Linked DNA regions of Homo sapiens. The protein of the gene in region 1 purifies or fractionates together with the protein of each later gene. This does not show direct contact. Each region holds a gene or a part of one and is shown in the gene's direction. Other genes may lie near its edges.

What was found.
Region 2: the proteins of STX16 (region 1) and STX18 purify together in Homo sapiens (affinity purification with mass spectrometry; one large-scale study listed by BioGRID and IntAct). This does not show direct contact.
Region 3: the proteins of STX16 (region 1) and SCFD1 purify together in Homo sapiens (affinity purification with mass spectrometry; one large-scale study listed by BioGRID and IntAct). This does not show direct contact.

The regions. Positions count from the first base shown.
Region 1 is NC_000020.11:58,660,404-58,665,584, forward strand, and holds part of STX16 (syntaxin-16), read left to right. Parts: intron 1-5,181. UniProt on the Homo sapiens protein: SNARE involved in vesicular transport from the late endosomes to the trans-Golgi network.
Region 2 is NC_000004.12:4,535,221-4,539,944, reverse strand, and holds part of STX18 (syntaxin-18), read left to right. Parts: intron 1-4,724. UniProt on the Homo sapiens protein: Syntaxin that may be involved in targeting and fusion of Golgi-derived retrograde transport vesicles with the ER.
Region 3 is NC_000014.9:30,631,423-30,636,146, forward strand, and holds part of SCFD1 (sec1 family domain-containing protein 1), read left to right. Parts: intron 1-2,524; coding exon 2,525-2,615; intron 2,616-4,724. UniProt on the Homo sapiens protein: Plays a role in SNARE-pin assembly and Golgi-to-ER retrograde transport via its interaction with COG4. Involved in vesicular transport between the endoplasmic reticulum and the Golgi.

The DNA.
Region 1 (5,181 bases):
TAGAAGTATGAATAGTAAAGTAGGATTAGGAGGATCACTGTCCTTAAAACCAGTGGGGTCCTAACTAGTAGATTCAGATCTACCTATATATTCTAAAAACCTTAACTAGTTGATAATGACAACAGACTGAGCACAGCCTAAATAGCCTTCATTGGGAACTGGTTAAATATATTGTGTAGCATCTCTGACCCTCTGTAACAGGTAAATAGTGAGGCCCATCCATGAGAGCTGCAGTGGAATAAGCCCCAGACACATGGCGGAGTGGAAAGACCCAGATGCAGAGCAGCATGGATAATATGATTCCTGCTCCTTTTTTTTTTTTTTTTTTTTTTTTTTCAGGAAAAATAACTCATATTTATGCTTGTGTGTGCTTAAAAAATTCCTGAAAAGATACACAAGAAACTGTTAACAGTGGATACACCCCAAGAAACATCTGGGATAGAAAACTTCCTTTCTATTGCAAACCCTTTTCTTAGGGTGGATATATATTTTTAAACCATGTGCATGTATACTTTGCCACTAAAAACAATTAGTTAAAAAAAAAAAACACCACTCAACGGGTAGCTGACTGAGCCAGGTGTCATGGTCATGCCTGTGTGGGGGTTTCCTTTCCCATTCAGGAACCTCACTGCCAGCTCCCCGCCTGGGCACGGGGCCCTGGAGAGGGCTTGGGGGCTTGGAGAGCAGGCGTTCTGAGTTAAAATAGATGTTGCTACTGGCTGAACAGTTTGAAGATATGGAGCTTATGACCTCAAAAGGAAGTGTATAGGATGCGAGGGAGGGTAACAAATTATGGAACCACTTAGGTTGAAGAACCATTTGAATAATGTTCCAAGGAGGGGCACATAAGTGGTCATAATTACTTCGGGGTCTGCTGTCTGAACCGATTTCCAGTCTTTCCTACTTCCTTTTTCAGGCAGCAAGTTCCAGAAACTGGCTACTCACTGCATGAACTTGGCAGGCCCTTTTGCTTTTCTTATGTTTCACCTCTAAGGGCTTAAAAGGGAGTCTTCACGCTCTGTGATCAGAGGCCCTGCGTAGAGAGCACTATCTCCTCCACGCTCACCCCAGTGCTATTAGAAATGCAGGTTGCTGCCTCATCGTGGGTGCCCACGGCCACCTCATTTCCTTGTGCGTTTCACTTGCCTCTTTTGCTCTTTTGTGCAGTGCCGTTATCTTTTTCATGAAGTGTGGCTTCCACAATTGTCTGTGACGTACATTTTATTTACCTCGTGCATTCATTCCACTCGTTTCTTGTCGGATCACTCAGCTGGTTGTGATTGTGCGTTCAGGACTCTGAAGTGCCAGGTACTGGCCTAGGAGCAGGGGGTGTGGTTGGGGACAGTGTCCAGAGGCTTCTTTGAAGCTGACGCAGGGCCTCACATTGGCATCTCTGGAAATAGTGAACACCCAGCTCCAGAGTGGATTAGATGTTAGCCACCCCTTTATAGGGGAGGCCTGAGCAAATGTCCCTGAGTGAATATCACTTGCATCTCCCAGAGTAAAGGCATCTGACGGCCTCACTTCAGAGGCTTCCTGCAGTCTGTCCATGTTTGATTGTCATTCTCCTCCTCTAGCCTGAGTACCCTGGAGATGTCACTTTTCCTTCTCAGAAAACACTAAGTAAGGTGTTCCCTGAGGAGGACCCGAGCCCACCATTGGTTCTCTTACCCAGGGAAGTGTCTGGCCCTCTCCTTTGTTCTCTGTCTTTAATCTACTTCCTGTCTTATGACAAAGAAATCTCTGGGAGTTTTTAAACTCAAGAATTATTTTAAAAGTCACAAGATAACAAATGTCAAGCCCCCAAACCACACTGCCTGGAGGACTGCACATCTGGGAGTGCCTGGGCCGGGCCCCAGTGTCCATGTTGGTGAAATAGGGAGCGGCGCTCCTCTGAAGGATTGTTCTTGGGACTGGCATGGGCCAGGTCAGTAGCAGTGCTCAGTACAGTGCTCACAGAAGGCAGGGAGGGACGGATTGCTCCCCTCCTTTTTCTTCCCCTCAGAGTATGTATGTTAGTTGAGAAAAAAGGAAAATCAGTGAAACTTAACAACAGTATCAGGGTGATGTGATTCTCAAGTGTTTTTATCTCTATATTTTTTGTATCATTTATTTTTATTTTTTTGAGACAGAGTCTCACTCTGTTGCCCAGGCTAGAGTGCAGTGGCGCGATCTCGGCTCACTGCAACCTCTGCCTCCCCAGTTCAAGCGATTCTCCTGCCTCAGCCTCCTGAGTAGCTGGGACTACAGGTGCGTGCCACCATGCGTGGCTATTTTATTTATTTATTTATTTTTGTATTTTTTAGTAGAGACGGAGTTTTGACATGTTGCTCAGGCTGGTCTCGAACTCCTGAGCTCAAGTGATCCGCCTGCCTTGGCCTCCCAAGTGCTAGGATTACAGGCGTGAGCCACTGCGTCATCCTATGCCATTTTAAAAGTATTTATTTTGACCATTTACTAATTTCATAATTAGAAAAGGTAAGCATTATTTTAAAATTATTACGGGTTTAGAAAAATGTAGTGCTGACATCACTTTTTTCTTTTATCCACATGCTTATTCACTTCTCCAACAACTCGGATTTCTTAAGCCTAATTGTCTATTAGCGAAGTAGTCTGACTTCATCATACAGGCTCCCAGAGTTTCACGTGGAAGTGTGAGTTGCCAGTCTGTTGATTTTCAGTGTCCCTTCTGGGCTTTCCAAGTGTTCATTGCCATAGACAGTCCAGAATTATCGGTATTGTTCTCATTACCAATGCGTTACGGCTAAACTTAGTTGATTTTTTTAGATGGGGAGGAGGTGTAGCTGACTTTTCCAATCTCCACAGAGGCTTTGCTATTTCTGTAATCTTAGTCTACACTAAATCAGCCTTCAGGGAAAGGCAGGGTTTTTAAGAGTAGGAGGGCCATAGATTTGGAACAGCAAGATTTATAAGAGAGAATGTGTATGTTCTTTCCATAGATGGAGAACTTGTCCATACTGGCTGGTACTCTTTAAATGGACAAATGTCAACATTTGAAGTGGATCAAAGGCAAAAGATACCTTTAGTGAGACTGGCAGGAAAGCCATTGGGTGTGCTGTTTTGAACATCTGTTGGATTTTTTCTGCATTTCTCTCAGGAAGGATGGCTCTAGGTTAGGGTAGCGGACCCCAGTAGTTCTTGGAGAGAGGAACTACATATCAAAGAGGCAAGAATTCTTAATTCTCTTAAGTACAATTTTTATTTAAAAAATATGGATTTTTTTTTTTTTACTTCAGAAGCACAAATTTATTTATTTATTTATGTATTGAGATGGAGTCTCGCTCTGTCTTAATAAAAGGCTGGAGCACATTGGCACGATCTTGGCTCACTGCAACTTCTGCCTTCCGGGTTCAAGTGATTCTCCTGCCTCAGCTTCCCGAGTAGCTGGGATTACAGGTGCATGCCACCATGCCCGGCTAATTTTTGTATTTTCAGTAGAGACGGGGTTTCACCGTGCTGGCTAGGCTGGTCTTGAACTCCCGACCTCAGGCAATCCGCCTGCCTCAGCCTCCCAAAGTGCTGGGATTACCGGCGTGAGCCACCATGGCCAGCTGCACAAACCAACATCATATATTTGGAGGGGGCACCATGTTGAAATTCAGTAAGGGTAAGGAGAGAGAATTAGAAACCTGGCCATTTTTTAAGATCTGTATGAAATAGGATGGCAGCTTGAAAATTGATACATATGCTGGATCTTCAACAATAAGAAGACATGTTTTTAAATGGAAAGTGAGGTTTCTGAAATTAAAAGGGTGCTTATGTTGCACATAAAATTTGTTTATGTCCATATTTGTTCCCATTTCAAATAGTTGACGCTTATCTTCAACAATTGTTTTCCCTTCCCAAAACATACTGTCTTGTTTTTTAATAGTACATACTGTGATACACATTACAAATCCATACTGCTAAAAGAAATGACACATTTCTTCTCAATAGGGTGGTGTTTCTTTATTATAATGAACTATAGCTATAGACTGTATCATAAAAGAGACAAATTATTCGCTATTTAAAGTTTTCATTCCCAAAGAATCAGCTGTTCTATCTTACTGGCAAAACTCTGATACAATGTGTGGGAAAGCTAGTACCAGCTGAGCAGGCTGGCATCCATGCTGTTCATGTAGGAATCTCTAATTAGCAAGCTTCCTTAGGACCCTTAACAAAGAGTGTGTTCTCCCCACTTTTGATTTACATCTAATTTGAGGGGAACACATGCATAAAATCAAGTACTGCTTCAAAGAGTTGTATTCACTTCAACCGACTTTTCATATGTGGTTTATAATTTGTTGTTTTGGATAAAATGATACTAATCCCAATGCAGGTAAATTTAGATAGATACCATCTCTCTGTCTTCTTTAGTTTAATGTGTATTTGTAAACAGTAAAAACAGTACAAAATAAGATCATGAGCTTAAAAACTCTAAAATCACTATAAATAATTACTGATTGAAATGTGTAATAATAAAATATAGTGGATTCGATAATAAACTGGTGTAGTGGAAATTCTAGGACCCATGAAGAGGTCCTTTAGCAATTTTAGATTTTACTTTGTATAAACAGCTGGAGTTCAAGTTCTGTTCCAGTCCAGCAATACTGTAGACAGCACCTGATGTATGGCTGGCAGGTGCTGCGAGCTGGGCCTGTGGTTTGTCCCCCTGCTTTTTAGTCAGTGTGTCCTCCACAGAGTTGTGTACCTCTTGGTGACTTTGGAGCAGGAGTGTTGAGGAATAAACAAGTCTGCCTCTGAGTGCTTGGCACAGGCCCTCTCTGTGCCTGCTCTGTAGAGGGTGAGGTCTGCGCCTCTCTGTCCACGGATGGTCAGTAAGAGAGGATGATCTTTACTGACACTAACGTCACTCACTGGCGGCCTGTCCTATAGTGCCTGGTGTAGTTGGTGGGAAATGAATCAAACTACTGTGTTTTGTTGTTTTAATCTGATGGCTTGTCTTGATTCATTTTCTTAGCAAATTGCAGTTATAGTTTATGGGCCTGTGGAGTGATTGGCACCTTTGAGGGTGGAAGGGGTTTCTGGAGTCAGCCGACCCAGGTTTCAGTCTGTCACATAATGGCTCTGTGACCTTGGGCAAGCGACTTAACTTTTCTGAGTTTCAATTTCCATATTTATAGGTTAGAATAATAGTTTCTAACTCACCTAGTTTTTATG
Region 2 (4,724 bases), on another chromosome or scaffold:
TAACACTGTGCTAATTTTGAGTCCTGCTCAGGGAAAGGGGGGATTTGGGAATGGTAGAGACAGGAGGCACAGTTGGGTTGGCAAGCCCTTTGGAGAGCCCTGTGATCACTTCCACCTCTCCCTGAGTGGTGAAAATGTGTTTGAGTTTTGAGTTAATGGGCCTCAGGGACAGTAACAGTCCCATAGGGTGCTGAGTTCCCTGTCACTGGAAGTGATTAAACAGAGTGATGACTGCTTTTCAGAGATGTTTGAGAAAAGCTTTGTGCATATGTCACAGGGTTGGACCGCATGACAATGCAACTTGCAGTTCTGCTATGTATTGATGTGAGTAGGTGTCACATCACCTTAAGTGAGTTCATGGGCTGTGTTGTTCAGGGACACTGTCCCCCTGACGTAGAGGAAACATACATTCTTTTAAGCAATTTTGATTTTATGTTGTCATTGCTTTGTGTATTATCTCCTGTTCTTGCAACCGTTCCCCACTCCCCATCTTCTCTTGTGGGAAGTTTAACTAGAAGAGCTAGTGATGGATGTCCTGTGCTTTTACTACAATTAGATGTCAAAAGTTTGGCTGTTATTTTGTTTGGCCTGGATTCCTTATAGAGAAAAGTCTGGTAAATACCAGAAGCACATATTCTAATTCAGGTTTAGCCCTGGTTGTCAGACTTAATGAAATGTAATAAGTTATAGTATGCCTTTTGGTAAGTGCCTTCCTTGAAGCATTTGCTGTTACTTCTAGGATGCGTTTTATCTGGTTCAATTTCTATTCTTCCATTCCATTCCTCAAATATATGCCTGATGCCAGATTTCCATCTCACTGAATTGTTGTAGAGGTTATATTAAGTTGAATAAAATTGCATTGAAACTGCAATTTTATTGCAGTCCCTACCTTCCAACAACAGGCTGATTGCTTCTGCATCATTCTTTTAAACATTTAACTTTTATGCTCAATTTTACTAAATTTATATATACTCAAATGCATGTCTACCCATTAAATTACAAATGGAGAGTAACGACTTTTCAGATTATTTGGGGGAGGAACTTATATTATTCGAACAACTCCAAATAATAATGAATATGTCACTCTGCAATGGGAATTTGATTAGTTAACTCATTTGAAGTGTGGGACTAGTGAGGATGATGGGATTGGAAAGAGACCTGGGCCTTGGGTTCAAATCTCGCTTCTGCTACTTAGAAATGGGTGAACTTGGGCAAGTCTGACTCTCGTTTTCCATTTCTATAAAGTGGACGTGATAATACCCTACTTAACTCACAAGCTAAGTAGGGTAGCTTCTGAGTTACCCTACTCACATAGTCTATATGTATGTATTTTAAAAAAACAGACTGATTATTATTGTTCCCCCAAACTACCTCCCCCCTCCTCATGTAGGCCATTTAGACATATTTTCTTTAGTGGCACCAAGCTGTATTTTCCAAACCACTTAGTTTTCTTGCACTTTCATTCCTTAATTTAGTTAAGTGCGTGAGGAATGAGTGAAAATCCTGAGCAGGTACTGATGAATCAGCGGTGGTGCAGAAGTACTGTCTGCATTCGTAAAAGATGGTAACATTTCTTTGCCAAGGTGAAACTCTTTCAGTGATGGCAGATGTGTGGCAGGTATGCAGCTTTTACTTTCTTTTCTTCCTTGTGATCATGGAAGCCAGTGCTAATTTCTTAGTGGATCCCTATAGCTCAGAATCCTTTGCAACATTGTACCCCAGGAGCCGTTACCTGTTATTAGGCTTGACATTCAAGTTGAAATCTACTTGACATATAGTAACAGTAGAATCTGTATGCTTAAAGCAGACCCATGTTTGTTTGTTTGTGGTTTTTTTTTTTTTCACTCAAAAGGACCTTGTGTTCATTTTGTTAATAGATAAGAAAACTAACACCCAAATAAATGAAATTACTTGCCCAAAGTCGTAGCAGTTGAGGTCATAGCACAGAGCCATAAGTAGAAGCCAGGTCCTTTGACCTGGTTTAATGCTGCTCTCCCTCTGCCCACTACATTCTCCTGTAATTTTTAAACCAGAATTTGTTTGGTTTCTGAATGGCAGTGAGTTTCTTCTTCTTGAGTTAATTCTGAATACTGCATACTGAATGGAACCTGGGGCAGAAAGACTTGGATTTGAATGTGTCTTATCTGTTATATGAACTTGGGGAAGCCACTTAATTTCAGTTACCTTATGGCTAAAATAGAGTGAGTAATAGCAACCTTATAAAGTTGTTAGGTGAAATAAGAAAAGGTATGCAGGTGCCTACATGAGTCCGAGTTCTTTTGTTTGCAAGTAATAGTAACCTAATGTAAATTAACCTGAACAAAGTGGGAATACCTTAGCTCATATAACTGGAAAATTCAGGGATAGAGCTTCTTTCTCTAGCTCTTATCCATAAAGCCCAGGAAGGAAATCTAGTTGGTTCTGCTTGATCCTCTGCTCTCTCTTACAGTAGTCATTATAGCCAGAGGAATGTTTCTTTAATTGGTCAGGTCTATGTCCACCTCAATCTGTGGTTAATAGGTGGCTTGGATGCTATGTAGCCCCCACCAGAATCATGGAAAAGGCAGTGCCCTGTCTGGGAATAGGGAGTAAGGAATGTTGGGCAAGCAAAAGCAACAAAAACATCCCTCACAGTGCCTGGGACAGTGCCTGATGTGCCTTCACCTTGCCTGCCTGGCTGTCTTCAACTCTGTGGGGAATGAGAAACTAGAAAATGCAGGAGTTTATAATGACAGGTTCTGGGGTGAGGATAGGCCTAGAGATGCCTCATAGTGGCAGCTCTTCTATTCTCTTACTGACTTATAAAGGTTACAGGAGCCAGGGGGGGCTACCACACAGGTAAGCAAGAAACCCGTAAGCACCGAACTGCTGTGCAGAGGCAGCAGGGGCTACTGAAGAGCACCGCACAGGAAAGCAGGAACCCATGTTCTAGCCGCAGGTCTGCCAGTAAGTGGGCTGCTCATGTGATTTCTCTGGGCCTCAGTTTCCACATTAGTAAAACTGAAAGCTTCGATTAGATAACTGCAGAGATTTCTTGTAGAATAAGGACACTTTGATTCTAAATAAGGTAATAATGATCCTGAATTGCTGGGAACTCTATTTTCAGATTAGGCATGCAGATGAGATTTTGTTCTTGATAATACATTCTTTTGTGGAAGCTAAACTTCGTTTTTTATTTACTTATTTTTAGGAATTGATTATCTTGAATCTTTGGCTGAAATTCAGAGTTCTTGGAGTGGCCCAAAGCCAGATGATCTGGCCCTGCTCCCTCTCTGGCCTCACCTCCTCTCCCCCTCCTTTTGCTCACTCTACTCCAGCTATTCTGGCCTCTTTCATTTTCTCACATGCATCAGGCACATTTCCCGCTTAGAACCTTTGCATCCCTCTACCTGGAACACTTTTCTCCTAGATTCCATATGGCTTGATCTCTCAGTTCCTCAGGTCTCTGGTTAAATGTTGCCTCCGTGAGGCCTTCCTTGAATGCCCTGCGTAAAGTGGCCTCCTTTTTCTGTCCCTTCCCCTAGCAGATCATATATCCATTTATTTGTTGTTTGTCTACTCGAATATATGTTTTCTGAAAATGAAGAACTTTGTGTTGTTAGCACTGAATCTGTAGCTTCTAGAACAGTGTGGGGATGCAGGTGCTTAATAAATACTTCTTGAATTAATGAATAACTGTTAATCTACTGTCTCTCTCAGTTTTGGGGCTAGGTGATCTCTGTCCAAGGCTCATTGCAGTTCTAAAGCTCTGTGATACTCACATGATTCTTGAATATTACATGATGCACATTTATACTTAGTCCGGTATTAAGAGTAAACATTCAGTAAATAGTAGCTTTTATTACTAAGATTCCGTTCCTCCCTCAACACATTTACATTCTAGTGGAAAAGCAGACACAGGTAGCACAACAACTCAGGTATGAGTAACAACTGTAACTTTTTTAGCATTGATTCCCCAGGTCCTCCTTGATTTCCTTTTCAGAGGCAGTGTTGACTTTCTGTGCCAGTGTTGGGACCCAAAGGTTGAGCTGGGACCACCTGGATTATAAATTTTACCTAAGGGTTGAGTATAATCATAGTTAGGGGATTTCAGTTGAGGGAGCATGATTCAAAGAAGCAGTATCATGCAACAGGTACAGTGAGTCCATGAGAGGCAGGAAGGACAGGAGATAGGGCCAAACCATACAGAAGTAGGATTGGGAAACAATGGAGGTTTAGAATGCAAGCTGTGAACAGAGCATGAGTGTGCTGAATCATATAGATTTCTTTTTAAATATGGCAGGAACCTTTTAGCTAATGAAATAAGGAGCAGCTTTGGTAAAAGCTGGAGTGAGAGGTTTGGGGAGAGAGGTTCATTCGCCAGCCTACTACCCTTCTGTTACCTTCCCCCTCTCCTTGAGGAACCCCTAGGAACCAACCAGAGGGCCCAGAGACACACAGTTTAAAAACCACTGCTTTAATGCTCTCCAGGGCCTGTTTTAGCTTCATGATGCTGTGTTTTTATGGATTGCAATAACTGAGTGTGTACTATAAGGAGAGCTCAGCACTGCAGAGTTTTCATGAGATTGTGAGTCCTTTGTGTGGATTACACTTCTGAATTTTGCCCAAGACTTAGGAGGACTGTAAGTTTTGAAATGTATTTATTCAATAATTGATTTATACCATCATCCAATAAACACTGAACATCTGGTGTGTCAGGCATTGTGGGGCCATAAAAAAACTAT
Region 3 (4,724 bases), on another chromosome or scaffold:
CAGTGCTGAAAGTTGAAAACAGAATGTTTTTATAGGTGCTTAAAATATGATTTCTATTGAATATGCACTGCTTTTGCACCATCATAAAGTCAAAAAATCCTAAGTTGAACCATTGTAAGTCAGGGAGTGTCTATATTTTTTTAAAAAAAAGGAATATCTAATTAATCATTAATATGAAAAATTTAAGTGACTATGAAGTAATGACTGTTAATCACCATAGTGGGCTATCTGTGTTGTCTTAACTGTTAAGTTTGTGTGATTATATTGCTTCTGATATGTTTAATAAAAATAAAACAAATGCAGTACTTTATGGGCTTGCCTAGTAGAACATTTGGAGAAGGGGCCAGGCACAGTGGCTCATGCCAGTAATCCTAGCACTTCTGGAGGCCCGGGTGGGCGGATCACTTGAGGTCAGGAGTTCGAGACCAGCCTGGCCAACATGGTGAAACCCCGTCTCTACTAAAAGTACAAAAATTAGCTGGGCATGGTGGCGTACCCACCTGTAATCCTAGCTACTTGGGAGGCTGAGGAAGGACAATTGCTTGAACCCAGGAGGCAGAGGTTGTAGTGAACCGAGATCGTGACACTACACTCTGGCCTGGGCAGCAGAGCAAGATTCTGTTGAAAAAAAAAAAAAAAAAAAAAAAAAGAACGTTTGGAGAAGGACTGTGTTCATGGATAGATACTAATACTTCTGTATACTAAAAGAGTCCAATTTTATGGTGTTCTAAGCTATTTGCATTTTGTTCTATTTATGATGTTATAACCAATTTTTATGATATCATATATTGAATTGAAATGTACTCTTACTGGGAATATAGTTTTAGATTTTCGATAAGTAACTTGACAGAATCTGGTTTAATCAGCTCAAATTCTTCAGTTGTATAATGAGCATTTGTTAATAGACTGTTATAGTTTGTCAATTCCAAATGTCCTTTTTTACATTTCTGAAATTAGGATCTATCTTATCACTGATGATATGTCATAACTGGCAGCATTTTTATTTCTCAGTAGTATATAAAATATATTTTAAAAATTATGTTTTAAAATTGTTACCACCTTGGGTTTCATGAAATACGGTATTTGATGAGTTTTCCTTTCATTTTTATGTCAGACTGAAATAAGCAGGTTTGCTTTGATAATGTGTTAATTTTTATGGACTGAAGTAAAGTTTAACTTCATGCTATCCTTGGAAATTGTGGTTTATTAATAAACATTGAGTGCCATTGTCTCTGTACTAAGTGTTTAACTCCTTTATTTACTAATGGAAGGACTGAAGTTTAGAAGGCTTAAGTGATTGTCTCACATTTGTACAACCAGTTAATAACAGAGCCATGGCCACATTGCTTGACCACTAATTCTGTGCTGTTTATCTACTGAACTGTAATGGCTCAGTAACAGTAACTAACAGAAGTGAGGCCTTACTCAGTACTTCATTCAGGGGTAATAGGATAGTCTACCAGTTTGAGAGTCTCGTAATCTCTGCCTAACTTGCTACTTGCCACCAGAGCATGGAAATATTACACAGCTACCATGGTGAACTCTTGTGTACTTTGCCTCCAACCATTCTCCTCTATTTGCTGGAGAATACTGTATCAGTTACTTTATACCCTGCAAGCTGGTTTAGGCTAATTTGTAGGAAACAGTAATTACAAGTTTCCACAGTATGAAATGGTGGTTGTAGCCCATTAGACAGTTGGACAAGCAGTGTGAAAAAGACCACAACCTATGGCAGCCATCACATTATCATTCTTGATATCAGTGGCAACAGTTATTAAACACAGACTCACTGGCAGCATGTGCCTCTTTCCTCTCTCTCCTTGATTATAGAAGGATGACTAGAGAGAGGTGAATATTCCTCATATAAGCATGGTTTGATGTTGGGATATTTGTATGGAAATTGTTCCTAAATTGTAAAAGGAGAAAACTGTAAAATGACTTAATCTATAAGATGCTTACATTCTCTTATGAAACAATAAATAGACAAAAATAGATTGTCTTTAATTTTTAAGGAAACATTTATATACCTTTCATTTAAAAAATATATTTGATTTCATGTTTGGTTAAATTTTTTTATAGCTTCTAAAGAATTGCTTCTAAAATTTTTTTCATTGCGTCCCCTAGCTTTCTGATTTTCCCCTCAGAGAGCCACACTTTCCTCACATTCACCCTTCCCCTCTGACCACCACATTTCTATGAAAAGTGGGAATAAGATTGATTCTGAATATGTTTTAGTTCTCATTCAAGGAGAGTGTTGGTAGAAAAGAATGTCTGACCATAAGCAGTGCTAAAAGTGTGAGCAGAATAGAACAAATGAAGACTAACAAGAAATTAGGGTCTTACTAATGCTAATAAATAATAACAACACTGACATGGGAGAAAGATAGGTTAACTCACTGATTAATTGCAACAAGAGCTTTTAGAGCACTGGTTACTGTCCTTGAGCTAGTGAACTCCCATTTTGAGGAATATTGTTTTAAATAAGTGAATAAAAAAATAAGTTTTAGTTCCTTATGTCTTCTAGGCTTTTACACTCTGATCGAGATCCTATTCCAGATGTTCCTGCAGTATACTTTGTAATGCCAACTGAAGAAAATATTGACAGAATGTGCCAGGTAATATGGGTTCTTATTTTCTGGACTCCTGAATTTGGAAATGGATTTTTTTTTCAAGAAAAATTCCTAGATGTCCAGGGTGAAAAATCAGAAATTCCTATGCCTACTTTCTCACTCTGATTTTTGAGACTATCTTTGAATTCCAAATAGCCTGAAAGACTTAAAACTTTTGGCTGAAGAAGTATTATACAGTAGTCCTCTCATGTCCACAGTTTCACTTTCCACAGTTTCAGTTATCCACAGTTAACCAGGTACTGAATATATTACAGTATTTTGAGAGACCACATTCATATAACTTTCATTACAGAATATATTTTCTGTAATATATTTCATTACAGAATATATTTTATAATTGCTCTATTTTATTTCTAGCTATTGTTGCTAATCATTTACCGTGCCCAATTTATAAATTATAAATTAAGTTTTATCATAAATATGTATGTATAGGAAAAAACATATACGGTTCAGTACTACCTGGTTTCAGGCATCCACTGGAGTCTTGGAAAATAACCCCTGCAAATAAGGGCAACCACTGTACTGGTAAAGTCTGAGTCTGGCTTTAACAAACAGAAAGCCTAGGTATATTGCCTTTCTAACTTATATAGGGTTTTCCTTTTCTAAAATAAGGGTGAGATTAGGAAGTCCACACTGGTGCAGAAGTACTATAAGGTAATCAAAGACCCAGGCTCCTTCTGTCGCTGATCATTCGTCTTTAGTTTGTTGGTTTTCCTTGTCTTGCTTGTCGCTGCGCCTGTAGGCATCAAATCTATGTTCACATCAACAAGAAGAGGGACATGGACTGTGCCAGCCCTGACTGTTGATTTTGATCAGGAATTTAAGCCTTTCCAGAAACTCCCAGAAGACCTTTATTTATTTCTCACTAGGTAGAATCAGTTACAAGGGTGGCTGCAAAAGTCAATATTTAGATGAGTCACCCCAAAGAAAATCTAGCAAGATTCTTTTAGCAAGGAAAAGGAGAAAAGTAGATATTGGATAGGTAAGTAACAGTGTCTTCCACAAGTCACAACATCTTTGTTATTGACTGTTGAATCAAATTGCTATTTAAATTGTTAGTGACGTTTGCAAATTTTGTGTCCTGTGTAGCTTTATGATGCCCAGCTTTCTCTTTTACCCTGCGTAAACTCAAGTATGCTATTCATGAAAGAGGTACCACTTGCAATCTCTTCTTCTTTCATTATTTAAATAACACCTTTATTGAAATTATAATTTACATACCATACAATTCACACATTTAAGGAGCACAAGTGTATGGTTCATTGGTTTTTAATATAGTCACAGAGTTTTGCAACCATCACCACAGTCAATTTTAGAACATTGTCATTACCTCAAAAAGAAACCTGGTACCATTTATCACATCCTCAACCCTCCCCCATCCTCTTCCATCCCTAAGCTACCTTCTGTTTCTGTATATTTGCCTACTCTGACCATTACATATGAATGAAATCCTATAATATGTGGTCTTTTGTATATGGCTGATTTCTCTTAGCATAATGTTTCCAAGGTTCATCCATATTGTAGCATGAATTGGTACCTTATTCCTTTTCGTGGCTGAATATATTCCATTGTATGGATGTACGAAATTTTATTCATCCTTTTACCACTTGATGGACATTTGGATTGTTTCTACCTTTTGGCTATTAATAATGTTGCCATAAATATTCATGTGCAGGTTTCTCTGTGGACATGTTTTCAATTCTCTTGTGGCCGTAAACACATAGGAATAAAATTGCATGGTCAAATGATAACTCTATGTTTACCTTTTTAGTAATAGACTGTTTTGCGAAGTGTGGTTGCACCATTTTATATTCCCACCAGTAGTGTGTGAGGGTTCTGATTTCTCCAGATCCTTGCTGAACACTTACTATCCGATATTTTTATTGTAGCCATCCTAATAGGTTTGAAGTGGCATCTCATTATAGTTTTGATTTGCATTTCTGTAATTAATGATATTAAGCATCTTTTAACATGCTTATTGGCCATTTGTATGTCTTTCTAGAAATATCTATTCAGATCATTCACCCAGTTTTTAATTGGGTTGTCTTTTTATTGTTGAGTTGATAGAATTCTTTTTCTGTTTTGGATACTAGA